Linked DNA regions of Homo sapiens: all the other regions are linked to region 4. The links come from fine-mapping of genetic effects on gene expression. A gene starts in region 4. Each other region holds a variant in brackets. All regions are shown on one strand. Distances are between the middles of the regions.

Region 1 (4,440 bases), 100 kb after region 4:
GTAAACCTCAATTCTCTGTATCAAGCATGAGACAATAAAAATCTACTTGGAAGCGGCCAGGTGCGGTGGCTCACTCCTGTAATCCCAGCACTTTGGGAGGCCCAGGCAGGCGGATCACAAGGTCAGGAGATCGAGACCATCCTGGCTAACACGATGAAACCCTATCTCTACTAAAAAATACAAAAAATTAGCCGGGTGTGGTGGCGGGTGTCTGTAGTCCCAGCTACTCGGGAGGCTGAGGCCGGAGAATGGCGTGAACCCGGGAGGAGGAGCTTGCAGTGAGCCGAGATCGCGCCACTGCACGCCAGCCTGGGTGACAGAGCAAGACTCCATCTCAAATAATAATAATAATCTACTTGGAAGCTATTTGTGCGTGTGTGTTTGTGTGTGTGTGTGTGTGTGATGCACATAGTTGTTAATGTCTTTTGTGATTCATTATAGGCCATCCTATAATGATGGCCAGCTCATTGATTCACTGGGTACCATGAGTGTCAGTATCTGTTGATCTTAGGGATGATCATTGTTGTCAAAGACAGATTTTTTAAATCTGACTGGAGTGAGGGTGGAGGATATGAAATCCTATATTCCTGAAGGAGAGGGTGCCAGGGAAGCAAAAATCAGTTGCTGGGGTCTCAACATAAGTATATATAATTTTACTTAATCCTTTTGTTTTCATTTCCATGCCTTTACCTTTTGTCTTCCTGATAACCCTAAGTCCGGATTTTCCCTAAAGTATGTCCTGGCTTTTGATGGGAGAATGGATAGGCCGGCAACAATATAACTCTTGAATTTGGTTCATCCTACCTTCCATTTGATCTGATGCTCATACTTTCTGAGCCATTCTGGGGGTCTGTGGGAAAATCTGTTTGCATTACTCTGTCTCCCTCTGCAGGCTTCTGTGGGTCCATCTTCCTTTACTACTCTGCTACATGTGTATCATTCTTTCATCTGCCTTCCACACTCATATATTGTGTTCATGGAAGATAGAATTTGAGTTAAGATTTTTTGTTCTTGCTGTCCTGTGGGCAATTTCTTAGTAAATACAGGGCAGAAAACTATTTTATCATCTAGAATACAGAAGTCTTGTAAGTAATCTGTCTTTACTTTCTTGACTCTAAACTTGACTCTAAACTCCATAGCTGCACTCAAGTTCAAGTTTAGTAACAGGAGCATGGCTGTCATTTTCATGTTCCCTACATGAAAATAAACTTTCACCTAAAAATCTTAATAAAGCCTTCTTAGCTTCAGATATTATTGCTTTTTGCCCAACCCTTACCTGATTCCTGGCCTCTTCCTTTAGTGTTTCCATGTGCCCCTTCCCCATGTTCTGGCCAAATAGAACTATACAAAATTCTCTGAAATCATGAGGCTATTTCATAGCTCTGTTCCTCTGTAGATGTAATTATTTATGCATATTCTGCATGGAATATGCTTTCCCCTTCCTTCTGATTGTCAAATCTCATCCTTTTATGTGTCATTTCTCAATCATCATTCTTCTGTAACCTTCATAGTTATGTTTTACTCTTTTTGCTATTTTTATTTAAACTAATTTTCTCTTAAAAATGGAATAAATTGACTTCATAAGGGACATTTTTTTTGAAGTTAAGTGGGAGCTATTTTGTGATTTTTACTAACACGTTAAATTACTTGATCAGATTTGCATTTTAAAGCAATCACTATCTGTAGTGTATAGAATAGTATAATGCTTAGCCTGCCTGCACTCAGAAAGTGTTTATATGACTGTTAGAGTGATTGGGTGAGAGATGATGAGAAGCGACCCAGGGCAATGATAGTAGCAATGGAGGAGTGGAAGGGTGAAGAGATGTTA[G/A]GGAGATAAAATTAACAGCACTAGGTCAGAGATTGAAAGAGAATGACAGAAAAAAAGTAAAAGGAAATTATCAGACTTCAATTTATGTTTACTTTATAATTTACTTGCCTTCATAGACCATCCACCGATCTTATGGGGTAGTCAACTCATTAATATTCACTTTTAAATCAAACTCCAAAGTTGAGATTTTTGAAAAACTTCATACAGTGTGAGCTTTCATTTTAATGTGAATATTGAGGTGAACTATCTGTACAGACTGAGGTGAACTAGCTAGATGGTGAATGTATTACATATATTGTGACAATATGATGTTACCCAAAACTTTTAATGGATTCGTTTCATAATTATACCACATGAGCTATTGAGATTTCTAGAAGGCCTACAAGAGTCATGAGATTGGACTCATTCACAGATCTTTTGGTCATATCAGTTCTGTAACAACAACTGCAGATCCAGTCTGTGATCAACTTTTCAAAACATCTAAAAATAGTATGTATTGTGTCTTAATCCCACACTGTGATTTTGCAACCTTCTTTGTCCAATGTTGCCTACCATTTTTGAATTTTTGAGTCTTAAAACTGTGGTGTACAAAATTATATCTTTGAAAAAATATATAACTTCACCTTTTAAGCCTCTTTCTCTGTATAGTAGGAGAAAATGTATTTATCTCAGTTCAAAGTAACATAATCACTTTCAGTTTAAAACTCAGTGTTTGAGGGCCAGGCTCATTCAGTTCCAGATTCTTCCTTTTCTTTCTGCAGTGATGGGCTGGGGAGGGTTGTTGATTGTGGTTCCTTATTATCATGGCACCAGGGGTGACACAGCTTGTTCATTGCCATTGCTACCCACCAAGGCTGCTGTCTGATGAGTGCCCGAAGGTAGGATTCCTGTCATACATAACTTGACTTATTTTAACCTATCCTCACATCTTCTGTGCCCTTTTTGCTTTTCTGTGCCAGCTCTATACATCCTTCCTGTCCTGATTTCAAGTGCTCTCTAGGATCACTTCTTTCTTCCAGAAAATTCCATATGGCTCTTGGGAAATTATAAAAAAAAAGTATGCTTTCCTATACTGTTGTGGTCAATGTTGTCCTTTGTGATTCCATTCTCAGGTCCAAATGCTACTTTGAAACTCAGTCCAGAGAGGTAACCTCTTAAATCTGTTCTAGGGCTCCTTTTCCTTCCAATTCTCTTCCCTATACTAGTTTTTCTTTTTGTGGGAAAAACACTTACTTCACTGATCACCTTTCCCTAAGGTATGATTTCTGGTTGCACTTTATATGCTTAGTCTTTTGCTGCTTTTTAAGATGTAGAAGTCCAGTTATTATCATAGAAACCCTTGGTCTTCAACACAATTCCTGTTATGTCTTAGAAGAACCCATTTAACTTTACAAAGCCAGTAATTTGAACATACCAGGGAGCAGTGCTTATAGAAATGTAATGCTACTGCTTGAATGTTGAAGGAAAACAATAATGTTTTAAATAAGTACAGGGTTAAAATTAGCTCAGCTAATATTTTTAAATCCTCTGATTATATTCATAATATCTTCTAATCAGGTTACAGATTAGTGTGTTTTTATTCAAACAGACTTTTAACTTCAATGAAGAGGCAGTCTTTCCCCTATCACTTCTCCCTACTTCTTCGATTATTTAGGATTCCTTAAAAATAAGTTACTTTATCCCATTGAAACACATATACCTCTATGTAGTGTATGGAATAACAAAAATAGTTATAATCATTTTTATATAACTGAGTGGTAGGTTACTTATAAAATACTAACCAAATGCTAAAATAAATAATTTTTAAAAATGTAGGAGCAGCTTGCTGTGACAGACAAAGATAGTATGTAATACTGTCAGTAGTAAAAAAAAATCACAAATGTTTAGGACTTCAAGGAAAATCAGAGTAGATCTTTTTCTGATGTTGTTTCTTCATAGCAGGTTCACTTCTCAAAAGAAATATGGTATCATATATGTTGCCTTCTATTTCATCCTCATATTTATAGTGAATAATGAGCACTGTAAGAGAAATATCATAGAGGCAAATGATGAAGCTACAAGGTCATTACAACTTCCTGCAATTTTCCTTAATTAGTTAGGTAAACTATATTTGGATGAATATATATGATTTAAGAGTTTAACAATAATAATGGTTTACAATATTTCTCATGGTTAATGGAAATGTATTTCATATTAAAGCAGTGAGCTACTAATAACAATATTTAACATAGTGAAAGTCCATATTCCAAAGTAGAAATTCATTAAATCCTCACAATAATTCCATTGGTTGAGGTATTAGTCTGTTTTCACACTGCTATAAAGACATCCCTGAGACTGGGTAACTTGTAAGGAAAAGAGGTTTAATAGACTCACAGTTCTGCAGGCTCCAAAGGTAGCATGGCTGGGGAGGCCTCAGGAAACTTACAGTCATGGTGGAAGGTGAAGGAGAAGCAAGATCATCTTACGTGGTGGGAGCCAGAGGAAGAGAGAGAGCCAAGGGGGATGTGCTACGCACTTTCAGAAAAACCAGATCTCATGAGAACTCTATCAGAACAGCAAGGGAAGAAGTCTGCCCCCATGATTCAGTCACCTCCCACCAGGCCCCTCCTCCA
Region 2 (4,440 bases), 250 kb after region 4:
CACTGGACCTGATTCACTATTAGTACTCAATAAACGTTTATGTAAATGAATGAATGAATGACATGCTTTCTTTTGAGAGCTTTTTAAAAAAAACACAGGTATGAAAAGCATGTAGCTAGGGTATTATCTCAAAAGAAAAAATACATTTGAAATCATTGTGGAGGAAAATTTATTGAGTATGAAATTCTATAGAAGCCATATAATCCAAAATATTGCTACCTGCTTTTACTTGCTTAAGAAATTCAAGGCTTTCTAGCTTGTGGTAATTTTAAAATATTTTGACCAAGATATTAATATGTTTAAATAGCAAAGTATAATACTAGGATATCTGATGGTAATTTACTTTAGAAATTCTGCTTAAAGTATCTTTGGATTGTGTCTAAAACATCAAAGAATTCATCTCTGAGTTTAGAAAATGTGTTGAGTGAAATGATAGACTTCTAATATTTGTTGTATATGTAATTTATATAAATATTTTCTGAAAAAATACAATTATATGTATGGACCTTTCCATATTTCTTAAGTTTCTTCTTAAGTTTTTTTCATATTCTTCATTTGTTTTTACTCCTTGATACTAATTCTGTAAAATAATGAAAATTTTTAGAAAGCTCTGTTGTACAAATAAAAATATAAAAGCTCAATAAAGTTAACCCAAATTTCAATAACTAAATTAAGTTGGATTTCAACTCAGCTTGATTCTTATCTGGGCCAGAGTTTACAATTTTTGTTCATAAAGGACCAGACAATAAATATTTTAGGCTTTACGGGCCAAGAGGCAAAATCAAGATATTGTGTATCTGTTTACACAATGAGAGAAAACAAATTGTCCCCAATTTTTCTAACTATTTAGAAATGTAAAAGACATTCTTAAATAACAGTGTACAATTTGGGTTTTTTCCATGGCCATAGTTTGCTGACTCCCATGGTGGTGAAACAAATCCAAATCTTAACTGTTAGACTCTTAAGTTTAACATTGATTCTCTGTATTAGTTTGCTAAGACTTTATAACAAAGTACTACAGATTGGGTGGCTTAAGCAACAGAAACATATTGTCCAGGCACAGTGGCTCATGCCTATAATCCCAGCACTTTGGGAGACTGAGGCGGGTAGATCACCTGAGGTCAGGAGTTCGAGACCAGCCTGACCAACATGGTGAAACCCCGTCTCTACTAAAAATACAAAAATTATCTGGGCATGGCAGTGGGTGCCTGTAATCCCAGCTACCTGGAGGGCTGAGGCAGGAGAATCGCTTGAACCTGGGAGGCGGAGGTTGCAGTGAGCCAAGATCACGCCTTTGCACTCCCAGCCTGGGCAACAAGAGCAAAACTCTGCCTCAAAAACAAAAAACAGAAACATATTGTCTCACCCTTCTGGAGGCTAGACATTAGAAATCCATGCTTTGGTAGGCTTGTTTTCTCTTGAGGGCCACGAGTGAGGGATCCTGTCTCCTTGTCTTGTAGTTAGCTTCTGTGTCTTCACATTGTCTTCCCTGTGTGTGTCTGTGTCCAAATTTCTCCTTTCAGTAAGAACATCCATCATGTTAGATTAGGTCCCACTCCAATGAGCTCTCTTTAACTTGATTACCTCTGTAAAGACCCTATCTCCAAGTAAGGTCATATTCTGAGGTTCTAGGGTTAGGGTTTCAACAACCAAATTTTTGGAAGGTACACAATTCAACCGATAACATTCTCATTCTCTTTGCTCTACATCAGACCTAATTTCTATGAACCCAAGTAACAAGTATGAGAGTTGCATTTCACTCTTTCCACTCTTTTTTTTTTTTTTTTTTTTTTTTTTTTTTTTTTTTTTGAGACGGAGTCTCGCTCTGTCGCCCAGGCTGGAGTGCAGTGGCGGGATCTCGGCTCACCGCAAGCTCCGCCTCCCGGGTTCACGCCATTCTCCTGCCTCAGCCTCCCAAGTAGCTGGGACTACAGGCGCCCGCCACTACGCCCGGCTAATTTTTTGTATTTTTAGTAGAGACGGGGTTTCACCGTTTTAGCCGGGATGGTCTCGATCTCCTGACCTCGTGATCCGCCCACCTCGGCCTCCCAAAGTGCTGGGATTATAGGCGTGAGCCAC[C/T]GCGCCCGGCCTCTTTCCACTCTTTTAAATTTAAAGCCATAGCTTCTCTCTCAATAACCTCACAGCACAATAATAGACAACTAGAACTGCATTGAGACAATTCTCCATGGAAAGATGACTCTCTGAGATTTGGTTTCCCCTCCCTTCAAAACACCCAGAAGATAATGTGGCATAGTGAAATCATCTGAATACTTAACCACTTTAGCAAGAGAGAAGTATTTAGAAAAATCAAATTATAAAGACAAATATTAATTTTGATCATATTTCTAACAAATAATGTTGCTGGTTTTTAACCACTTGACTTGGTGATTCCTTAAATAGATCAAAAGGCTTATACACAAATAACATCCTCCTATGTCCTAGCAGCACTCAGAATTGACTCCAAAATAAAACTGTTATTTGAAAACCCCAGCTGTGAGTATGCCTTGGTGTTAGAAAGTGTCACACCTTTTGTAGCTAGAACTGTCACAGCATGAAGAACTGATGTGCCATTGAGTCCTACATCCTGCGCAAGGATGGGCTAGCACAAGAATTCTAAAGATGTCTTTTTTTTATTTTTAAATGAAAAGACAGTGTGAGATTTTTAGATATAAAGACTCAGATTTATAGCTTAGCTAGCTGGAAATGCCTTGGAAAAAAATAGAATCATAAATTTTGAAAGAAATTTGCTTTAAAACAAAGCATGATTATTTCTTATCTCTGAAGTTTTATTAGCCTGCTATTGATGCGTTCATTATTTTCATGACTGATAACATTTTTATCAGCAAAAAGGCTGTATTTTTTGATATTTTTTATTTGGTATTTGATATCTGTTTCACAATCCCAAACCTACTTTAAAAGGACGATTATAAAGATTACATAAGATAGCACACCATAAGTATATTATACAGTGTCAGTCACAATCCTTTTTCTTCTCTTCATAGAAAAAATTATTAGCAGACATCAGAAATCAGTTAATTTTTGAAAACTCTCACTTCTTTACAAATAAGACAATAAACAGGAGGCTTTTTTATTTAGAGAATGGCTGGATACCCCAGTGCCCTGGTTTTATATCTGGAATAGAACCATCTCCAAAGAGAACACTGTACAAATGATTAGGCCTACCCTCTAAGTGGAGTTTCTACTGATTCTATGCATGATAAATAATGGTTACTCTCTTGCCTACGTAGGACAGTAAAGAAAGTGAAGGTCACTTGTACGTGTTTAAATAATAATATGACAGATATGTGTTAAGCCTTGTGTTCATAATCGAAGATATTGTATCCTGCATTGTGTAAATGAGGCCACTGAAGCATGGAGAGTTAATATATTAACCACAAAAATGTATTTTGTCTATATTTTAATATGTTATGAACCTGTTGCCCTCTTCCCCACCCATTTTGTTGACAATAAAATCTTAAATTATAGCCATCTAGACATTCTTAAACCTGGCATTTTAGACAAAAATAATTTGGGGACAGGGTATAGTTTACACTGTTTCTAACTTAGAAGTTTTATCTCTTGCATAGTAGGTACTCATGTGGTCTGATTGAGACACAAAGTATAAAAGTACCAAGGGCCAGTAGAAAGTGGAAAATGAAAGTATCATGTCCCCTTAGCAAGAGAACAGAAAGACTAGGTCAAGCATTCTCTCGTTTTCCAAAGATCATTAAAAACCCTTTTGTAATATTAAGTAGTCTATGTGATACACAGAGTGAGCCTTAAATTAACTTTTAAAAGTTTTCTATCTTGAAATATACTTTTAAAATAAATTTTCACCTGCATAAATGTTCTCTTTGGATTAAAGACTTAATCACCACAATTTCCAGAGATACTTTTCCTACCCTTTTGATTCCATTGTTGTTGTAATGACAGAAACTCATTAACACAGTGGGTATCAGTATTGATTATGACTTTTAGACTTTACTTTTTCCCATTATAGTTTAATTTCTGTCTAAAATAGATCATAATTCTCAATCTGCTGCTGCTTTGGAGTTTTTCTAAGATATTGGACCATTTACTCATGGTGAGATAATAGTGTTCAAATTGACACTGGCAGTCACGAGGTACCCTGGACTCTTTTCTCCTATTTGATGCTCTGTTTTGTGGAATAGAATAGTATGTGTAGCCTTCCATGCAGAATTAATCATGAAAATGAACTGCATACTGCAGGTACAATCAGCACCATCTAATTACCTCAAACTTGCTTGTCTTATGACTTTATTTAGCTGAGCACATGCATTTGATAATAACAAGTAGGATAATTCAAAATCCTGTCAACCACAGGCAATTTAGTTATCATAAGTGAAGTCCGGTGTGTTTTAGAGATCGTATCCATTTGACAAGCTAGCAGGTATGAACAGGAAAGGCATAAGACAGGAA
Region 3 (4,440 bases), 200 kb after region 4:
GGAGAGACCAAATTCAAGGCCATTGTCGGAAATAACTGAGCCCCTGAAAAATCCATGTCTGAAACTATTTCTCCTCTACTTTTGAGTTATGTAACCCAGAAAAAAGTCTTTTTGTGCTTACACAAATGTGAAAATCATCCCTATTGCATGACCCACAGGATGTATGACATGTAAAGATTTGCCATACTATTAAAGAGCAAACTTGAGTGGTTCACATTGCAATGCAGATGTGTTAGAGGGATTTGCTAAGTTAGTTGGAGAGCTTAGCTGTTTAAATTTTCACCAATGCAGTAACTCACTTGACATTATAAAAACATTGTCTTTGCCATTAAATGGTAATGAAAGTTTAAAAAGGTAATAAATTATGGTTTGAAGATAAATATCAGAAATGCATGACACTCAATAAAGTAGAATACTGGATAAATGACTTTTTCAATTTGAATATTCTTCATAAGTCTTCAGTGCACCTCTCCAAAATTTTTAAGTACGTCACTTAAATTTGCTTTTGCTTATTATGTTCTTTGTGAAGAAACCTAGTTGTATTTACCCAATCTGATGATGGTAGCTCCAATAATTATTATAGTCAGGTGAAATGTATTATATAATTTCTGCCATTGAAGAAGTAGCTTATTGCTTCCTGCCTTTCCTCTAAGATTCATATCATGACCTCAATATTACAGTGCTGGCTGAATTAATGGTACAGATTTTACTGCTTTGGCTTGAGTTTTATTCTCACATTCATTGACAGAAAGAATTTGTCCTCAGAGGCCATCCCTTTCATCATCTTCCAAGTGATTCTGCCAAATGTAAAGCGAGCCCAAATTTTCATCCCACTGGTACTCAAGGAAGTTTTTCAATTTTTCTTCTATAGGTTCACACTTGCCCTTTTTTTTTGCATAAGACTATCCACCAACATGTAACACATTTGTTTAATTCACTTCTTAACCTTTATCTGGAATTTATATTCAACTGAAAAATGTTCATAGGTGCTGGACTGGCTCAATATCAATAAAGCTGGCATGTCATTTGTAAAAAAGTAATATTAAAATTATTGGTTGAATTCAGGAAACCATTTTAGAAATAGAAGAATTTAGGTTAACCAGAAGGATAAGCGAATGGTTACATGTGCTTTTACTGACTACCAGACTTTGTATTAAAAGTGGGAAATATCTGACATTTACAATCTCTGTAAATGATCACTGAAATTGCCCTTTTTTTTTTGAATGTTTATAAAGATCAAGAAGATCAAGCTCAGATAATTCAAATCAGTTTAGGTCTTTTACTTAAATAGCCACATTATAATTATGTTTACTAAAGAGCTGAAAAGCATTCCTTTCCAGCACATTATAATAGCTATAACTTATTTTAGGTCTTGGCGTAATTAGAATGATTCACATTTTTCCTACTGACTGGGTGTATTTGTCTCCTTTGCACTGCACCTTCCTCCTCTTCCTTGTATAACATACATCTATATGTGTGAATACAAACAAATATAAAAACATTCATATATGAATGTACCCCCAAAGCAAGCAGGATGGCGCTCTCCAGAGAAGGAATAAGTGGGTTCCCCACTGTCGCTCAGAGTAAATGTGGACTGATGTAGTTCTGGGACAAACCTACTGTAACCACAAGTTAATAACAATATCTTTGAACAAAGAGACAGAAACCCCCTTTTGATAAGCCTTCTCTACAATCCCCTCCTTGCTGGCTCCATTGGACTGAGCCCATCCTTTCCAGGGTTCACCCCTCCAGAAGGATTAAATTTCCTGTCTCATTGAATCAGGAAGAACCATGTGATTTAATCTGACAAATGAAATACAAGTGGAAAAATGACATGGGATGTTCCTGAGCAGAAACTTAAGAGCCATTGCTTGGATCTCTCACCTCTCTTTTCCTTTGGTCATAAAATCAACATGTCCCAGACTAGGATTGCTCTTGTAGCATGGTTGTTAGAATAAAGAATACCTGAGAGAGAGCTGTAACAAACAGAGTGGACATTAATGTCAGCAAAATACATCTTTGTATTGAATGCCACTGAAGTTTCTAAACCATTTGTAAATGCAATATAACAATCTAATTCAGGATTTCCCAACTTCGGCACTGTGGACGTTGTGAAATGCAGAATTCTTTTTTGCATGGGGGTGGTTTATCATTGTAGGATGTTTAGCAACATCACTGGCCACTTCCCCTTAGATGTCACCACCACACCCACAGTTGTGATAACGAAAAATGTTTCCAGATATTGCCAAATGTCCCTTGGGGGAAAAACCATCCCCAGTTGAAAACCACTAATCTCAGCATAGTAGTTCTCAAAGGGGGTTTTCAGAGCCAGCAGTATCTGGAAATATGTTAGAAATACAAAGTCCCAGGACCCTCCGAGTCCAACTGAATGAGCAGTTATGTGGCTGGGGCACAGCGAACTGTGTTTTGATAAGCCCTC[C/T]GAGTGGTTCTGAACATATGAAGCTTGAGAACCACAGGTTTAAACTGATTGGTATATGTATAAGCAGTCTTGAATAAGGAAAGGGCATAAATATTGCTTTTATTTACAGATGAATAAGGTCAACTCATTTGATATATAAAGCATTAGAATTGCATTTTTTGTGAATCTGTAAGGCTTTAGGGTATATTAGCATATATACTAGTGTAACAAATGTTAAATACATTGAAATTTCATAATTTGAACAAATTTCACTATGGTCTCAGGACTTGGAAATTCACTGTGTCACAATAACTCAAAATGAAAGAAAAAAGATTTTCTACTTAGGAATTCTAAGGGGAGTGTCATTTTGGTCTTCCAAAAAATACTTTACAAAATTGTGTTTTTAGGAGCATAACTGTCAGTTTCAATTATCTGATATTTGTACTGTAATTTTATTTAGCACATTTTATATAAACGAGTAGTATTTAAAAAGTATAGAATTGAGAATGAGTATCAATAATTCACAGATTTCTTTATTGCAGAATTTTGTCACAAATAATTGCTGTTCTTTCCAGCTAATTTCCTTTTCATATCTATAAAATGGGTCTAAGTCTGATCTACCTTGAAAGGTGGGGCATAAGGAATAATTAACTTTACAAAGTAAGTGGTTATTATGTGTAAAGTTATAGGCAATGCATATTATAATGCTAATATATATAGTTATGAGATTGGGTATTTCCTCTATTGAGATTGGCAATAGGAGGTAGAAAATCACAATTAATTTTGCCACATTAGCTCTGAAAATGATGAAGATAATATCTCTGCATATTTCTCCATTTTCCCTCATTTGATAAAGGAGAAATCCCTATTTTTCTGTTTGTGAGCAGAAAATCTTCAGAAGTTAAATACTGAAAGGTCGATAGTCTTCTTAACTGTCAATGGTACCCATGATTTCTGCTATACTATATATTTGTTTTTTAAAGTTGTCCTAAAATCAGAATTTTGTGGTGGTATAGTGTACGTACCAGTACAAGGTAAATACAAGAAAATTATCTTTAGGTTTTCTGTTTTTATGAAAACATTAAGAAATAAGAGCTGATTATGCTGTGATAGGCTTATGAAATAGACCTGGAAAAATGCAATATCAAAAGACACAATGTGCATTTTGTGTTATCTGTAACATTATTATGTTCCACACACTTGACCATAAACTTTCAATTTTAAGCTTTGAGTCAAAATATCAAGGGAAAACCCTTTTGAGTTATTTTTTTCTTTCTATTTCCTTTTTGTTTTTACAAAAAGGCTGTAAGAAATCTTTATCATCACATTAGGATTTTAGGATTCAAAATAAGAAGGCTTTGACTTTGTTCTTTAAAAGATTAGGGAAGTCTTTCCCTTTAAAGCATTATCTCCTAGCGGGTGGAGAGTGTCATGCTTCATTTTTTAGGTCCTTTACACTCTTGAATTTGATTTGTGCTTTTACAGCACAAATCCCAACATTCAGAAGGGAGATCTGCCTGCTTCAGCTGCCTGCAGCTACAGAGAATTAGTCTGTCATTCTCGGCATCGGGGAGTGTGTGTTGTGTATGTGAGGGTGTGAGTGTGTGTCCGTGTTTGAGATTGGGTGGCTGAGAGTCATTTAAATGTGCATAAGGTTAATAGTGGAAGATCTCGTACAGGCTTGGCTCAGAAACCTGTGGCATTCTACGCTGGACAGCCGTTCCCGTGCCTCTGTTTTAATTTGGCAGGATGTTTGCTGCCATGGCAGCCAGCAGCATCCACTGCAGCAGCAAGGAAGAGCCATAGATCTGAGAATGCAGGTGGAATACTAAAATGTAAGAGGCTTGTGCAGGGCTGGGCGTCAGTGCTTAATTCCTGCTCTTCCTGGGCTCCTATGAGCAGGCTGTACTTGCTGCACTGTGTCAGCTCGTTAGAGTAAAGGGTTACAGACCTAGGTCAGTTAAGGGCTGGTGAAAGGCAGGGGAAAGAAAAAAAAAAGCAAAAAGCAAGAGACCTCAGCT
Region 4 (4,440 bases):
GAATACAATCATCTATATTTTAGTAAGCACTCAGGTCACCATCACATCTGGTTTGTTGAACTCAGTTTGTAAAACCTCATTTTGAACTTCATCTACAAGGTATCAGTGACCGTAAGCTAATTTTTTACTTTCTCGGTGCCTTTGTCTCCTAGGTCTCAAAACGGTGTGGTTCTTTTAAGATAAATTGAGATGACAACTCCTGGCACAAAGCACATTTTTTATAGTAAGTTAGTTTGGTTTTGTTGCTTTTGGTGGTAGATATTACTGCAAAAAATTAGTTGACAGTGGCTACTAATACCATCTTATATTTCAGTCAGAGTGAAAGATATTGCCTAATATGCAAAAGGTATTTCAAAGTGAAAAGACATCTTATTGAATGTGAATCCTTTTTTTTCAATCTAATTGTTCCAGGAATTACGATACATTCTCCTCCAATGCATGTTTCCAAAATACCAATGAGCTCATTTGTAATTGGCAAACAGGAATTTTGTACTAGTATAATGCAGAAGTTGTGTAGCTTTATATACAATTTATTCTAGGCAAAGGGAAGCAGAATAGTCAGCGTAGAATTATAACCTTGGGTGGGCAAAGAAGCCCTCAGTTTGAATGTTGTATAGTCAGCAGGAGCCCTTTTGGCTCAGTTTTAAGAAAACTAAAAACAAAAACAAAAATGAATGCCTGCATCTGGGGCTTCCTCTTCAAAGGGGCATGCCCCTGGCCTTGTGCAGCTCTTAAATATTTGCAGTTGCCCTGACCCTGTACCCATTTCAATGGCAAGCCTACTGGCTTGGAGTTTGCCTTCCAACCGGATTTCTTCCACCAATTCTGGTTAAAGTGTTGCCAGCATTTATACCCAATTATTTTTTTATGTAATTCTGAGTCACTTCCTTGAGTGGTCCAAATTATTTTCTGAGGTGCCAATATTATTTTTGCTAGCAATATACTCCCAAAGTTGCATATGTTTTGAGTGAACTTCCTAGAATCAATTTTTCCCACAAGTTCTATTATTTAGGTGCTGTTTTGTTTTGCATTGTGAGGATTACAAGTTGCATATGTCTTATTATGAACTAAACCTCATTTTACGAACATGAACCTCTCCAACTCTGTATTACCTTATAGTTTCTGAAAGTTATAATGTGTTGAATGGTTTGCAAATTGCAAAATAACTTACTTCCTCAGAGAGATTATTTCATTTCTTTGATACCACTAGTGTTGTATTTGTTTTGTATTACCCCGCTGTGTAAAGCCCACTTGGGTTACTATTTTTAAAGCCTGCAAGACTTCTAACTTACATTTCCTGTCTTCTATGCTGCATCAGCAGAACATATACTTTTAGTTATTGGCTCTTTCATCTATAAATTACTGCTTCTTAGATAAAAGTACGTAGTGATTTAAAGACCTGGAAACAGTAGGCCAAAGATGACCATTTCTTCACTAAAGAAAGACATTTTCTATAAAAAATGGTTACGATTTAATAATTTCCATGATTCATTGTGTCTATACTAAGTGTCCACCACTCATTTTTCTAAGACCTTTGGTTGCATTATTACTAATTTTTATATTTGGTGTATATAATTGCTCTCTGTATCCATTTTCTGAGTGCAATCAGTTTCAGAACAATAATGCATGGTACATTAGATGTTTTCTTAAAAGTTTACCCCTTGTTTATTTAAAGTTCCTGACATGCTTTAACCAGAAATAGAACATGCTATGATTATATTAAAATAATTCTATGGATGGAAGCATCATCATTCATTCTCACTGAGTATCTGTTTGGACAGTTTTTAGAAGCTTGGGATTTTAAGTTGGACGTCATAAGCTTGAATAACAGTGTTATTTTCAACCATTTTAAAAGACAGGTTTACAAACTAAAATCATACATTCTTTCCCCCTTTCTAGCTTCATCATTTTAGTCAATTTTTTCAGTGTCTCCAAGTCATAGCTGTTCTTTCTATAAAGTGAAGAAAATAAATATGCCTATACTTTGAGTCATTCCAATGATTAAATGTGATAATGCATAAAATGCTTAGCTCCATAACTGCTTTGTAATACATTCCACATAAGTGTTAGCTTTGAATGTTTTTATAATCATGACTTATTAAATTTGGGAACAATGATTACTACATATTTAGTGCCCTGCTTCCTGTGTTTACTCTATTTTCATAACCTAGGCAGCTATGGTCCGATGAATGATTTAACTGCTTTAGCTAGTTGCACTATTGCATGATTTTAGCCTGATTTCATGGGATGCAACAGAATGAACATCGTGGCTCATGGCTGTCAGTAGTGAAAAATAGCTGGAAATCAGACAAACAACTTTATTGCTGAGATTGTTTCCGGGCTAAAAGTTCTTCCAACAGCTGTTTGTTTTGGCCATTAACATGTCCATTCTTTTTATTTTTTCTGAGCTGGGGGAAATACAATTTTCTTTAAAAAGAGAATGCAGGCTGGCTATTTCTGAAATCAGGAAGAACCCCTGTCCTTCCACTGTTGTGGTCTTTTGGCTGCTCTGACAGTTGGACTGAAGGGCTTTTCCTTTTGATTTTTTCCTCTTTTTCAATCTCAAAGTTCAGACTCAGACTGCTTTAGTGAGAAAAAAAAATAAGCAAAACTAAGAGCTCTTTAATCCTAAGAAGGAGCTTTGTAGCAGTTACCTTGAAGAAGAGTTTACTCCCCAAAGGAGTATTTAGTATTACTTAGATACTGAGTCACTGAACAGAGAGAGAGAGAGAGACAGAGAGAGAGAGAGAGAGAGAGAGACAGAGAGAGAGAGAGAGAGAGAGAAAGAGAGAGAGAGAGAGAATGAGAATGAATATGAATCCCAGCCAGCAAGAAAGAAAAGATACTTAACTAAAGATGCAGGGAAGTTTTGCCTCTTCCTGAAAATTATATTATTAGCTTTTTAAAAATCAGGATGACTGCTAGTTTTGTTTAAAGTATTTGTTCTGGAAATACTAAAGTTGGAGTCTACCAGACTGAGGTTAGAAGCATTTTCTTTGGCAGCAAGAAGATAATTTTATAGAAGCCATGCCTGTTCTTGGGGTTGCCTCAAAACTGAGGCAGCCAGCTGTTGGGTCAAAGCCTGTGCATACTGCTCTTCCGATACCAAATCTTGGCACTACTGGGTCACAGCACTGTTCTTCAAGACCTTTGGAACTTACTGAAACAGAGAGCTCCATGCTTTCTTGTCAGCTTGCGTTAAAATCAACCTGTGAATTTGGAGAGAAGAAACCCCTCCAAGGAAAAGCCAAGGAGAAAGAAGACAGCAAGGTTAGTTGCTGAAGTTACCTGCAGACTTGTGTAGCTAAAATGCACATTTCTCTTTAAGTGCACTATAAAACATGTTATGAAATGGGGAGTAGTAGAGGAATACCAGTGTAAGGATGTAAGTAGTTATAATGGCTGAAAAGCTGAATATTTAGCTTATGTAAACACTGTATTCTTAGTTTAGAGTTGTAAAAGTCATGATCAAAATTTTCTGAATATGCATCTATTGTAATCATTTAATACTACTTATTGATGAATGCCTAGTTAGTTCTAGATATTGCTCTATTACTAATAATCATAATCAGTCACAAATGTGAGAAAAAGAGAACCTATTGTCATCCATACTGCAATGTATGAAAATAGGTACTTTCAAAAAGACATTTATTTGTAATAATTCATATAGACACCATCACTTTTCTCTAAATGTCATTTGCATTTCAAAGAATTTCTGCTTGAAAATTTGTATCATAGGCTGCTTAATTCATTGCAGTATGAAGGAAAATGACATACTATTTTCCTTGATACTGCACATTTATATGGACTTTCCCTTGTAAACTGAAACGCTACTCTTTTACTTATTACTGACATCTTTTTCAGTCATTTAATTTATGATATTTTGTGAGTAGTTGCTCATAGCCCTTGGTTTCTAAAGCATACTACAACCGTTTTCTCCAGTCACGCATGCTAGAATGGCACTGAAGCTGCTGAACTTCATGCGGATTCATTTGTACCTTGATAAGCGTCACTTTTGTTTTGTGCATTTTTACTTTTATTGGTACATATTAGGTGTATATATTTATGGGTACATATTGGTGTATATATTTATGTGGTTCATGAGAGATTCTGATACAGGCATACAATGTGTAATAATCATATCAGGGTAAATGGAGTATCTGTTGCCTTAAGCATTTATCATGTCTTTGTGTTGCAAACATTATATATTCTTTTAGTTATTTAAAAATATAGAATAAGTTATTGTTGACAGTAATCATCCTATAGTGCTATCAAATACTAGATCTTATTCATTCTATCTAAATGTATTTTTGTACTCATTAACGATCCACACTCCCCCTACCCCTCGCCACTACCCTTTCCAGCCTCTGGTAACCATCATTCTACTCAGCATCACTTTTTAATGCAGCATTAACTATGATGTCAAGCTTTCCAAAGTCA
Region 5 (4,440 bases), 24 kb after region 4:
GGTGGAGGTTGTAGCGAGCTGAGATCGCACCACTGCACTCCAGCCTGGGCAACAGAACGAGACTCCCTCTCATAAATAAATAAATAAATAAATAAATAAATAAATAAATAATGTTATACTTATGAAGAATAACAAAACATATGCATTATAAGTTTGTGAAAACGGCCTAGTAAAATATTTTAAAATTGTTATTGATGTATAATAGACACATACCAATAAAGTACACATACCATAAATATGTTTCATGAATTTGTAGAAAATGAACACATTTTTCCAGCTAGTAGAGAATAGGAAACAGACATTTACAATTGCTGTCTGACATTTACAATTACAATTTAGATTCCTTATTCTCGTAGATTTATATTATTCCAGTACGTGAATTCTCCCACAATTTATTTTTTATTCTGCTTTTAATGTGGGCATTTGGATAGTTTATAGCTTGGGGATTTATGAATAATGACACTGTGAACATTCCTGCACATGTCTTTTTGCGAACATAAGAAGCGATGTCTGTTGGGTAGATCCCTAGGGGTGAAACTTCTAGGTAATAGGCAAGACATATACTCAGCTTTCATGAGTACGATTACTGCCACCATTTCTAAAGTGGTTGTACCAGATTGCTTTCTTACTAACCTGAATGCATCTTCAGTTGCTCCACATCTCTGCCCTCTGGTATCACCATTGTTATGAGGCCACAGGTCCTTAGCATTTTCTATGTAGTGTGATTTTGTTGTAGTTTTAAGCTTCCATACACTTATGACTGATGGAATTGATTATCTTTTCTGTATTTAACTGGCCATTTGGATATCTTCCGTTGTGTTCATTCAGGTTTTCTGCTTACTTTTCTAATAAGTAGTGAGCCTCTTTCCTTAATGGTAGATAGAAATTTTTTAAACATTTTCTGCACATGAGTCCTTTGTCAAATATGCATATTGTGAATATCTTTTCCCATTCCATGGGTTGTGTTTTCCCTCCCTTAATAATGTCTTTTGGGAAACATAAATTCTTAATTTTAGTGTAATCCAATGTATCAATTTTTATCTTGTTTAAGAAACTCTACTGTTCAAAAATTTCAAAACTATTCTATGCAAAAAGCACTATTTGAGATGAAAATTGAATATGTGCAATACTTCTGATAGCAACATTTCAACATACACAATAAAACAGGCAGAATTGGTCATTGTACAGAATAGAGATAATCTTATCTCTATTTAAAAAAAAGCCACATTTTGTGTCAGATGATTTCTGAATCCAGTAAAACTCTTAACGTATGCATACCTTTTATAGTCAGTTTGGCAGACTTCTAAAAATCAGGAGTTAATATTTCATAAGGTATAAATTTTTCTTATACTGAGGTGAAAATTCTCTCTCTGTTAGTTCCACTTATTGGTTCTAGTTTACTAATATAGTCTTTTGTTCACTTATCTATTCAACACATATTATATGAATCCTATGACTTCTAAGTCTTGGAAAGGTTTCAGGGATAATTGAGGAACTCAGAATTGACTTTGGGAAGCAGTCTGTTAGCAGGTGTACATTTTTAGAGCTCATAGTCATACCAGTTGGTAGGAAAATGAAAAAGCCTCACCTTTTTGTCCTCTTCTTTGAGTAAAGGCTTTCAACTATTCCACACACAATATGAATTTCAGATGCCTTATCATCATGGTTATTCGTTTTCAGACATAGCCTAATTAGTTACTGATATATTTAACATTAAGATTAAAAATTAATAGAAAGCAATAGCCTACATGATGTTTCATCAGCAATATGGCTCCATTAGTTTCTAGAACTGGAAGGCAGCCTGTTTCTGTTGATTCAGCTTAGAGCAGCTCTATCATATTTTTGGCAGTACCTCATACCATGTTCACATACTAAACTTGAATTTGAATAAATCTGCATAAATCCCCTAAATCGTACTTTTATGATTATTATCAAACAAGTGTCCTCCAACTTTTTCAGTTAATTTACGAATGTACAAAACTTGCTGATCATTAGAAACCTTGTTTTCCGAGAACATTTTATGATATAGGACTATGTTTTCTTTTTGATGTAAAAGTAACTGAAGAAGGTAGGAAATAAAGCTATGTAATCATGATAAGCCAATTGTGTGTATGTGTGTATGTGTGTGTGTGTGTGTGTTTGTGTGTGTGTGTTAAAATTATTGGAAATAAATGTGCCAGAATATTTGTGGCACTTATCCTAGAAAACAACATATAATTTCAAATCATTTATGCTAATT[C/T]CAAGTTCATTTCCTTATCAATCATGCCGCCTCTTTCTACTATCTTTTCTAAATCTACAAATGAGATCATATACCGTCTAAATATTTTAAGTGTAAGCATTTATTACTTAGAAATGCTGACTAACATCTGGCCGGGTGCAGTGGCTCACGCCTGTAATCCCAGCACTTTGGGAGGCCGAGGTGGGTGGAGGCAGGCAGATCACGAGGTCAGGAGATTGAGACCATCCTGGCTAACACGATGAAACCCCGTCTCTACTAAAAATACAAAAAATTAGCTGGGCGTGGTGGCGGGCGCCTGTAGTCCCAGCTACTCGGGAGGCTGAGGCAGGAGAATGGCCTGAACCCAGGAGGCGGAGCTTGCAGTGAGCTGAGATCGCGCCACTGCCCTCCAGCCTGGGTGACAGAGCGAGACTCCATCTCCAAAAATAAAAATAAAAAATATATGCTGACTAACATCCTTTTGCATGTGTCCTAAAGAATTCAGGTGGAGAATGATCTTTTAATCAACATTTAAAAATTATAATTGTCTAAATATTTATACAGTTATCCAACTGTTCGGTATAGCCTAAATTTCAATATATTTTTGCCAAAAATAGTAAAATAATCATCAAATATTGTCTGAAATCAAAATTCTAAGCTTTTGTTATTTTTTTGGCTTCCCACTTAACATTGTTACAAAATGAAAGAAGGTCAGTTTGACAGAATCTATTCTTAGTGAATCTGTGATATCCCTAAAGGGTATCACAATATTTTTCTATTTTCTCAAAAGGTCTCTGTTCAATGACATTGTGATATATTATAAGAATTCTATAATACTTTGCAGCTCCTCCCATCAAGGTGGGGTACAGAAGTGTATTCACATCCATCTTGAATCTGGACTGGCCTTGGAATTTACTTTGAGCAATAGAATGCAGTTGAAGAGACACTGTGAGAATTCTGAGCCCAGACTAAAGAGGCCCAGAGCTTTCCCACTTGCTGCTCGTGGGCACTCTATATAAATAAGCATGAGCTAGTCCACTGGATATTGAGTGACAATCGATGCAGGGCCCTAGCCGACAGCTAGCTAATGCCAGATGTATGAGTGAGTCGTTGACTGCCAGCACATTGCAGATACGTGAGTGAGCCCAGCCAAACTCAGAAGAAGGAACTCCTAGCTGACCTTAGCCCAAATTGTCACCCTACAGTATCATGAGCTAAAAAGTCATTGTTGTTTTAATTCCTTAAATTTTTGGTGGTGTATTTTATATAGCAAGTGCTAACTGATACAGATTCGTACTGCATTTTCATAATAAATGCTATAATGTTTATTTCCATGTAAGTCTGTTATTAGAATTTACTGTTTATATAGGCTGTAGAGTATTATTATCTTCACTTCAATATAATTTTTAAGAAACGTTCTTTATTGTACATATGTTGTGGAGAGAAGATGAGCACTATATAACTGGTAATTCTTTTTACCAATGGATATATATAAGAGCTTTCATTTCCTGCTGTTTGTTCTGTTTCAGGAGAAGTAGGACTTGCAGCTCTTGGCTGTCTATGAAGTAGAGTATTATTATTATTTGTTCTTGTGACATGTAGCTATCTAAGTCTTAGAATAAATAATGCTTTATGAAATGATAATGACAAGGTGAAAATTAGGAGGAAATACTGATAACTTGCTCACAAATTGTGCACATTGGCTGTTGGGCCCCAAGGAGTGTTTTCTTACACAGGAGGTCCACCCAAGATTTGTTTCCTATGTTCTAAGGTGTAAAAACATACATGAGAAATATGTATTTATTTGAATAAGACTATATTTGGTTTAACTCAATCTTTGAATTTAAAATCTTACCTCCAGAAATAATTTTAAAATATTATATTTTAGAAAATTTTCCAGTGGAAACAATGCCACAGAGTTTTGAAATGATGTAATTAAAAAGTAAAATAATAAAATAACATTCTTAATATTAAATTATTTTACAATGGTTGTGAATGCATAACATTAAAATGTTAACTTGAAAGGAGGAATAATACAGTTAATTATCCACATTTCTAAACAATGTTTGAGTATTATGAAATGGCTTTTTAAAAACATTTTTACCCAGACATTTAGAATTATGCACTTTAAAATTTGAATGGTTTCAATTCAAAATAAGCAGTTATACTTTCTGAAAATAAGCTTTCCAGATCTTGAGTGGATCTAAATTTTTAGACTTTGG
Region 6 (4,440 bases), 380 kb before region 4:
TCTTTTTATTCCACTTGTATTGTTTTAGTTTTTCATTAGCGTAGTTCATTGAGTCCTTGAAATATCAATCATTTTCCCACTTGGCTGTAAGTTGCTAAAAGTCGGACACTCTATTTATTCTCTGGATCCAAATTGGCTAGCATAGTTCCTGGGATGTACTGAATAGGAATCCCATGCACTGTTGTCATGTGAGCTCTGTAGAGAAACTTTCAAGTTTCAATCAAGCTCTGCCTCTTCTTGCTGTATAACCTTGGAACTTTATTGCATTTCTCCTAGCTTCAGCTTCCTCATAGAGATTATAAAGCTCAAGGTCTTATGAGAAATGTATGAGATAATGTTTAGGAGCACTTAGGAAGTGCCTGGCATATATTTAGTGCTCAATGAATGTTAAATTTTATCTTTAGTGTCCTAATAGCACATTCTCTCCTCATTTTGGTTAGAGATTGAGAATTGTGAAAACCTGTTGGAACATTAATAGCTACGTGTAATAGAAAGTCAGAAGACTCACCTGGATGTTTTTCCTTCCAGTGGTGACTCAGGAATCTAGAATTCTATCTTGTGGATCCATGTCCTAGAGTCTCCTTGGAATTCGTAACTGTATCCTGGGGGTCAAGTATAGGAGTAATATAATTCCCATGTAATTCCCAGCTCCCCATGTTCTATTAGCCAACATTCAGTCACATGACCCCATATAGAAACAGGTACAAGAATACTAAATAACTAGTCTTATGTGCCCAGAAAATAGTATGAGGAATTGTTTCTATTATAATAGATTTCATCAATAATTACTAAATGTCATCTAAGATTCACTTATAATAATATGTTCACTGCACTTAATATAGTTTTATTAATAATGTTTTTTTTATTACCTGTGTTTCACAAATTGACTGGGATGGATATATCCTGCCTATGGGTAGATTCAATCTGACAGCTGAAGAACAGCGGGAAAGATGACAAAAGCTAAAGACCTGCTTCCAAACTCACACCATGGAATTGCTGAAGCTGTTTTTGTCTTGGAAACCATAAGAACTGCAGATATATTTTATTATGAACTCTGTTGATTTTCTTTAAACTCTCCTTTGATTTAATTGTACGTTTAAATAGATCCCATTTTAGGCATTAATAAGCTTCAGAAGCTTCATATTTGACTTTGAGATTCTAGTTAACCTAAAGCTTTTTCTAGTAAGAACATACATAGTACATCTTATTTGTTAGCTAAACGATAAGCTTTTAGCAGTTATTTCTCAAGAGACTACTGCTCCACAGGTCAGAATATATCTATATTCCACCAAGTAGAGGTACTTAATTCTTACAGTAAGGCAGTTGACTGTGTTGGTTTGACATCCGCTACGTCTTTGACATTATTTTTAGTCATTCTTTATTCTTTATATTCTTAATTCATTTGATGAACAAGGTTTTGGATTCCCTAAGCTAAGGGGAAAAAAATGCCTGAGTGTCCTCCTTATTGCTTTTAAACCTCAGGGATTATCAGATGCTTTACAACTCTGCTAAGCTCAAGGCAATTTAATAACTTGCATACTCCAAATTATAAGAACATATAAAACAACTAGGACAGTAACAGCTTAAGTAGGACATTTCCTTTCTAAATACTCAGAAGTAGCCACATTAGACTGAGTTAAAATAGAACTAAGACTCTACTCTATGCCTTACCCTTGTAATTGCTTAAGACTCTGTGAAACTATTTGTAGTGATTGGCTCATTTACCTTTGAGTCTTATCAAGTGTTTTCTGGCATATCATCAAAAGTATATATGATATGTGTGTATTGGAGGAGGGGAGGCAGAACAAGATGACCAGATAGAAGCCACCACTGATCATCTTTCCTGCAGGAACACCAGACTTAACAACTGTCTACACAAAAAAGCATGAGAACCAAGAATCAGGTGAGGGATCAGAGTACCTGGTTTTAACTTCGTATTACTGAAAGCGACACTGAAGAGGGTAGAAAA[G/A]ACAGTATTGAATTGTTGACACCACCCCTCCCTCATCCTCCAGCAGTGGCTGCATGGAGCAGAGAAACTGCACTTGAGGGAGGGAGAACAAAGCAATTGCAGGACTTTGCATTGGAACTTAGTGCTGTAACAATGGAAAGCAGCACTGAGCAGAACTCAGCCAGAGACCATGGAAGAGCGTTTATACTAGCCCTAGCTAGCGGGACAACATTTATCTCAGCGGTTGGAACCTGAGTTCCAGCAAGCCCTACCACTGTGGGCTAAAGGGCTCTGGGGTCCAAAATAAACTTGAAAAGCAGTCTAGGCCACAAAGACTGCAATTCCTGGGCAAGTCCTAGAGCCATGCTGGGCTTGGAACCTGTGGATTTGGGGGCCATGTGACCTAATGAGGCACCAGCCAGGGTGGCTTGCATCACCTTTTCCCCAACCTCAGGCAGCACAGCTCACAGCTTCAGGAGGGAATCCTTTCTTCTGTTTGAAGAGAAGAGAGGGAAAAGTAAAGAGAACTTTGGCTTGCAACTTGTGTACCTGCTTAGCCACAGTATATAGGGTATCAGGCAGAGTCCTTGGGCCCCTATTCCAAGCCCTAGCTCCTAAACATCTCTAGACATACCCTGGGCTAGAAGGTAACCTGCTGCCTTGAAGAGAAGGACCCAGTCCTAGCAGGATTCATCACCTGCTGACTAAAGAGCCCTTGGTCCCTGAATAATCAGCAGTGGTATCCAGGCTGCATTCATCATGAGCCTTGAGTGAGACTCTGAGATGTGTTAGCTTCAAGTGTGACCAAGCATATTTCTAGCTGTGGTAGCTATGGGGAGGGAATCCTTCCACTTGGAAAAAAGGAGAGGGAAGAGTAAAGGGGACTTTGTCTTGCAGCTTAAGTACCAGCTTGGCCACAGTGGGGTAGACCATTAAGTGGGCTCTTGGATGGCATTTCTGGACCTGCCCTGGGCCAGAGGGGAGCCCACTGCCCTGAAGGGAGTGTTCCAGGCCTGACAACATTCATCACAAGCTGACTGAGGAGCTCTTGGGCATTGAATGAACATCAGTGATAGCCAGGAAGTGCTCACTGTGGGCCTGGGGTGGTGGTGGCCATGGGAAGACACTTCTCTGCTTGTGGAAAAGAGAGAGAAGAGTGGGAAGTACTTTGTCTTGTGACTTGGGTGTGAGCTTAGCTGCAGTAGAATACAGCACTAGGTAGATTCCTAAAGTTTCCGACTCTAGGCCTGGGCTTCCAGATGAAATTGTTGCCCTGAAAGGAAGAAGGCAAGCCAGACTGGCTTCACCACTTGCTGATTGTAGAGCCCTACGGCCCTGAGTGAACAAAGATGGTAGTCAGGCAGTGGTTACCACGGGCCTGAATGAGACCCAGTGCTGTGCTGACTTCAGGTATGACCCAGTACAGTTCCAGTGGTGGTGACCACAGGGGTGCTGTGTCACCCTGCCCCAGCTCCAGGCAGCTCAGCACAGAGAGGGTGAAACTCTATTTGTTTGGGAGAAACTAAGGGAAGAGAGTAAGAGTCTGTCTGGTAATTCAGATAATTTTTCCAGATTTTATCCAAGTCCACCAAGGCACTACTTCTATGAGTCTGCAAGAGCCACAGTGTTACTGGACTTGGGGTGACAGCTCATGCAAATGTGCGGCAGTGATCAAAAACTTACATCAAATACCCAAGTCCCTTTGAATACTTGGAAAGCCTTCCTAAGAAGGACAGGTACAAATAAAACCAAACTGCAAAGACTATAATAAATACCTAACTCTTCAATGCCCAGACACTAACAAATATCCTCAAGCATGAAAGCCACCCAGGAAAACATGACCTCACCAGTTGAACTAAATAAGGCACCAGTGACCAGTCCTGGAGAGACAGAGATATGTGATCTTTTAGACAGAGAATTCAAAATATCTGTTTTGAGGAAGGAAACCAATAAAATTCAAGGTAATACAGAGAAGGAATTCAGAATCCTATCAGGTAAATTTAACAAAGAGATTGAAATGACTAAAAAATAATCAGGCATAAATTCTGGAGTTGAAAAATGCAATTGACGTGCTGAAGAATGCACCAGAATCTCATAATAGAAGAGTTGACCCAGCAGAAGAAAGAATTAGTAGCTTGAAAACAGGCTTTTTGAAAAGACAGTCAGAGGTGACAAAATAAAAAAAATGAAAAAGAGTGAAGCATGCCTGAAAGATCTAGAAAACAGCTTCAAAAAGGCAAATCTAAGAATCATTGGCCTTAAAGGGGAGGTAGTGAGAGAGCAGGGGTAGAAAGTTTATTTAAAGTGATAGTAACAGAGAACCTCTCAAACCTAGAATAAGATATCAGTATTCAAGTATAAGGAAGTCATAGAACACCAAGCAGATTTAACCCAAATAAAACTACCTCAAGACATTTAATTATCCTTGATATTTGGGAGTTTGATTATGAAAACATTCTAAAAGCAACAAGAGAAAAGAAATAACATAAATT
Region 7 (4,440 bases), 330 kb after region 4:
AAGGCATTTCTTCAGGGAGCTGAGATAAAAGGGTATATTGCTCTCTGGTGATTCAACAATCCTGAGAAAAGGCTTGTGAAGTATAGAGCAGAGATTCTTAAACTCCCTTCCCCAAGTTATAAGTTTCATTTGTCTATTTAGTCATTCATCAAGTTTATATTGAATTTGTGCTCTTCTAATGACAAAACAGTACAGACAATATAGATATAGAATGATAGATATAGGTCTATATCTATAGACATACCTATCTACTAGAACTCTAAAAGCATATTATACATGTATGTAATATTCCTCATGGAGTTTATATTTCTCATATATATCTCATATATATGTATCTCTTTATCATGGAGTTTATATTTTAGGAGGTCACAGATGATAATAAAAATATAATTAAAACAGGCCAGGTGTGGTGACTCACACGTGTAATCCTAGCACTTTGAAAGGCCAAGGCAGGTGGACTCCCTGAGATCAGGAGTTCAAGACCAGCCTGGCCAACATAGTGAAACCCCATCTCTACTAGAAACAAAAATTAGCCAGGCCTGGTGGTGGGCACCTGTAGTCCCAGCTATTCAGGAGGTTGAGGCAGGAGAATCACTTGAACCTGGGAGGTGGAGGTTGCAGTAAGCCGAGGTCATGCCACTGCACTCCAGCCTGGGCAACAGAGCAAGACTCTGTCTCAAAAAAAAATATATATATATAATATATATAATATATATATAAATATATATATTATATAATATATATATAAATTACATATTTATAAATATGTAATTTATATATATAATATATAATTAAAACATATAGGATTTCAGGTGATGATAAGCACTACTGAAAAAAGTAAAGCTGAGAATGAGGATACTGAGAAGCTGGTTTGGAAGCTAAAACACAAAGTAACAAAGGCCAAGGTGGTTACATGTTCTTGATTACATACTTTAAAAATGGATAAACTAAATTAAGACTCAGATTCTAGTCTTTGGGCTTCACAGTGTGATTTTCAGCAATCACATGGCATTAATAGCCTGAAACTACATCAAAATTGTCATTTGATTTATAGACCAAAATAACTCCCTTGAATAGAGAGGGATTCACTCCTAACACTTTTCCTATTTCCAGATGCCAAATAACACGGAATCTCTTGCCAAATTTGTGTGGCAGAACACTGGTTTTATATACTTATAGCCTGGTAAGAAAGAAAAGACATGTATGAATAACTTAGAAGGCAGAAAATTATCATGCTATTAGACTCAGTACAATGTCATGTGCATTCTCAAAGGAAACATCTGCAGAGGCAGGAGAATTGCTTGAACCCTGGAGGTGAAGGTTGCACTGAGCTGAGATCATGCCACTGCACTCCAGCCTGGGTGACAGAGAGAGACTGCATCTCAAAAAAATAAAAATTACAAAAATAAAAAATAAAAAATAGTGATCAATCTGGCAGCATTTTCTGAAAGTTAAGCAGTATTCCCAATAGCTGCTAAAAGAAGACATGTTATATAATACTAAGTCTGTAAGTAGGTAAAAATTAAGAGAATTGTTAATGTGCTTGCTGGGGAGTGAAATTATCTCTAGGCATTACCCTATACCTAACCTAGGACTCAGTAGACTATGATATTGGCGTAGTTTGACCAAGAATTTTATCCTGATTTCAGATCGTTTTCTCTTCACCAGCACTTCTTCACCAGGATTATATGAAAAAAATTAAACCTGATGCCCTGAGGCATCCATTATATGTGCTGAAATAACTTCTTTTCTCACCATCTAGAATGGTACTAGCTATGTACCACTCTTGTCAGAATCAAGGAAATTGCTACTCAAATCATTGTGCAGCTTAATTTTCTCACAGAAGGCCAGTTGAGAAAGGCTCAACTTCTAGGAATCCAGCAAACTATATTTTTTATAAGTAACATTTTTACAGAACTACTTCTAAATCCTTGTGTTCAAATTTACTAAAGCTATATTCACAGCTAAATATTTCAGAATTTAAAATTTAAAAGACTTTCAAATTAGTTCCCTGTAGCTGTCATGCCAAGGCAATTAGAACATATGTTAAGGTATGAGGGGTTTTTCTTGTTAGAAGGTCAGAGCAGGGCAGAGAAGTAGCCCCTTGTATGAGTGATGAAGCTCAGATATTGACTCCTATGCTAACCATAAAGCCTAGTAGTTTGCTCATTTGTTACCTCTCTGAAACATTTTTTTGGGTGACTACAAAACAGGAATTGAAACCTTCAAAATAAGGGAATTTGAAACCAAATCTTTGAAAATAGATAATGCTGCAACTAAAAATTTAGTTGAATA[G/A]GATTTTTACATTAACTCTCCCTAATTTACGTTATGATATTTGCCATCTAGAAGTGTTTTTAAAAAATATATTGCTGGAGTCAGATGATGCATCCATTAATCTTTGGGGCATAGAATAATGTGAATCTAAAATTTTCAAATTATTTACACTACTGGTATTTGGTCAATGTAATTTATTTGAAACTAGATGCAATAGGGATGGCCAGGTTATTTCAGTAGAACAACTAGCAAGACTTCAGATGCATGGTGGAGTGGGGAAAGGAGGACCTGTTTAAGGAAACTAGAGCTGGGAAGTGTGAGATTAACTTAGTGCCAATGTGAGGACCTAAAAAGCAGATGTGGTGGAAAATTTAAACAGGCTTGCCTAGAAGGTCAAGTTAGTTGATGACACTTGATGAGATTGTCCCAAGCTTTGGGATTCTCAACAAAGTCTTTGTTAGTGAGAAATTTGGAAAGAGATCAGGTATAGTTAAGAAACTGGGTTGGAAAGGCCACCAGGAAAGGCGAATATTCTGACACAAAATTTGATCATTTTATTTGGAAGCATTTCAAGCCTGACCTGAACGAATTGTTTAGCCTCAGATACATGCATAAAACTGTGAAAAGAGACATTGACTCAATTTAGCTTCTTTAACATGAGAAACTTTCGTGGAAAACTAGAACTTTACAAGCTCAGCTGGTGTTGGGGGCATCATTATCTTGAATAGCTCACTGGAGGAAAATGAAATCTTAGTTTGGTTCTCAGGTTTTAAAATATCTATCATTTTTGAAAAGTGTGAAGTAACAAAATATGATCTGATTATCTTATTCCTAAAATCCTTTGCAGAATTATCCCAGCCTCAATCTTCTCTTTAGTATTTAATGAGAATAAGAAACTGGAAATGACTGAATTGGAAGAGTAGACTTTAAATCCATATCTTGATGGCATATACATTTTTCAGTTTTTTTTCTAAATGATTAATGAGGATTCTCAAAACTTGAGTATCTTCTATGTTTCCCTTCAACATAAAGAAATTGTATGAAAATATTTTAAAAATTTCTAATGATTTTATAGTTAGCTATCTTGGGAATTCATTTCTAATCATGTACCTCATCCAAACTCCCCACTATGGACAAAAATAAAATAAAAATTATTAGTTGCATCTGAAGGCCACATTACAATTTCTATGCATTATAGAAACCTGAGAAAATGTATCTTAAAAAATAAATGTGAACAACTAACCATAATTATGAAGAAGAAAAATGAAAACTAGAAATAAACTATTGAAAAATGTCTATGTATCAGTTAAGTTTTTATTTTAAAATTCTTTATGTTTATCTCTATAATACTATTGGGAAAGAGAGAAAGGAAAACCTGACTTTGTTCTCATCCAAAGGAGGTGATTCCACTGATTTAGCCAAAATAAGACTTCCTGGTTATAATAAATAATAAAGTTTTTGATGTTTTTTATATGGTACCCCACTCACTAGGTGATCAGACACCCTCCTGCAAAAAAAAAAAATACGTATGCAATAAAGTTAAAGTTTTATGTTATTCTTTCAAGGGGAGAAACATCTGTTTAACACAGACCAGAATATTTCAACAAAGTCATCCCAATATTTATGGAGATCATAAATCAAGCGAAAAAATATATTCATCAACAACTAAACAAACTACATTAAATAGTCTCAAAGCACATTTTCACTTTTTTTCTGACAGGAAAACAGGTTTCACAAGTGTGGAGACATTTTACCATGGCTTTTAACAGTGAGGAAGGATGTTTAAATAAAGGGAAAAATTATATGGAAAGCTCAGAGAAAAGAGATGGGTGTGGCTTGAGTGACAAGGTGAGAGCAGATCTCATTAACTGAAATGAGAGAGAAGGAAGGAATTTTGCAAATATGGAAAGATAACTAGTGCAAGTTTGAACAGATTATGTCAATCAATGTAGAATTTGGCTATCTTTTTAATCAAAGACTATGGAATATTTTATAGGTGTTTGCTTATACTCAAAGTTTTAAAGAAATAACAGTATGAATTTGGTTGAACTAATTTTTTTCATAGATAGGATTCTCCCAAGTTATATAGCATATATATTTCTTAACTAGTTATTCTTCCTTTTACATATATTGTGCCACATTGAGTAACAACTAACCTGCTAATAG

The links. PIP is the estimated chance that this variant, and not a neighbour inherited with it, causes the effect.
Region 1: its variant is the best candidate, but not a certain one, in a credible set for the expression of NAV3 in testis (GTEx, PIP 0.88).
Region 2: its variant is the best candidate, but not a certain one, in a credible set for the expression of NAV3 in unexposed skin (GTEx, PIP 0.62).
Region 3: its variant is the best candidate, but not a certain one, in a credible set for the expression of NAV3 in whole blood (TOPMed, PIP 0.85).
Region 5: its variant is the best candidate, but not a certain one, in a credible set for the expression of NAV3 in esophagus muscle (GTEx, PIP 0.67).
Region 6: its variant is the best candidate, but not a certain one, in a credible set for the expression of NAV3 in skeletal muscle (GTEx, PIP 0.55).
Region 7: its variant is the best candidate, but not a certain one, in a credible set for the expression of NAV3 in cerebellum (GTEx, PIP 0.71).

What each region holds. Positions count from the first base shown.
Region 1 is chr12:77,931,531-77,935,970 of GRCh38, forward strand. The region is part of intron 1 of NAV3 (neuron navigator 3); the gene reads left to right. Among named protein-coding and RNA genes, the nearest start is that of NAV3, 100 kb to the left of the region's middle. The variant G/A (reference allele first, on the strand shown) is at 1,829.
Region 2 is chr12:78,076,605-78,081,044 of GRCh38, forward strand. The region is part of intron 12 of NAV3 (neuron navigator 3); the gene reads left to right. Among named protein-coding and RNA genes, the nearest start is that of NAV3, 250 kb to the left of the region's middle. The variant C/T (reference allele first, on the strand shown) is at 2,080.
Region 3 is chr12:78,032,028-78,036,467 of GRCh38, forward strand. All of the region lies in intron 9 of NAV3 (neuron navigator 3), which reads left to right. Among named protein-coding and RNA genes, the nearest start is that of NAV3, 200 kb to the left of the region's middle. The variant C/T (reference allele first, on the strand shown) is at 2,441.
Region 4 is chr12:77,828,435-77,832,874 of GRCh38, forward strand. It overlaps NAV3 (neuron navigator 3), which reads left to right and starts at 2,460. Exons shown (of 40, transcript NM_001024383.2): 1 at 2,460-3,270. The coding sequence starts at 3,028.
Region 5 is chr12:77,852,468-77,856,907 of GRCh38, forward strand. The region is part of intron 1 of NAV3 (neuron navigator 3); the gene reads left to right. Among named protein-coding and RNA genes, the nearest start is that of NAV3, 24 kb to the left of the region's middle. The variant C/T (reference allele first, on the strand shown) is at 2,240.
Region 6 is chr12:77,445,553-77,449,992 of GRCh38, forward strand. No RefSeq gene overlaps it. Among named protein-coding and RNA genes, the nearest start is that of LINC02464, 130 kb to the left of the region's middle. The variant G/A (reference allele first, on the strand shown) is at 1,970.
Region 7 is chr12:78,162,184-78,166,623 of GRCh38, forward strand. All of the region lies in intron 23 of NAV3 (neuron navigator 3), which reads left to right. Among named protein-coding and RNA genes, the nearest start is that of LINC02424, 200 kb to the right of the region's middle. The variant G/A (reference allele first, on the strand shown) is at 2,296.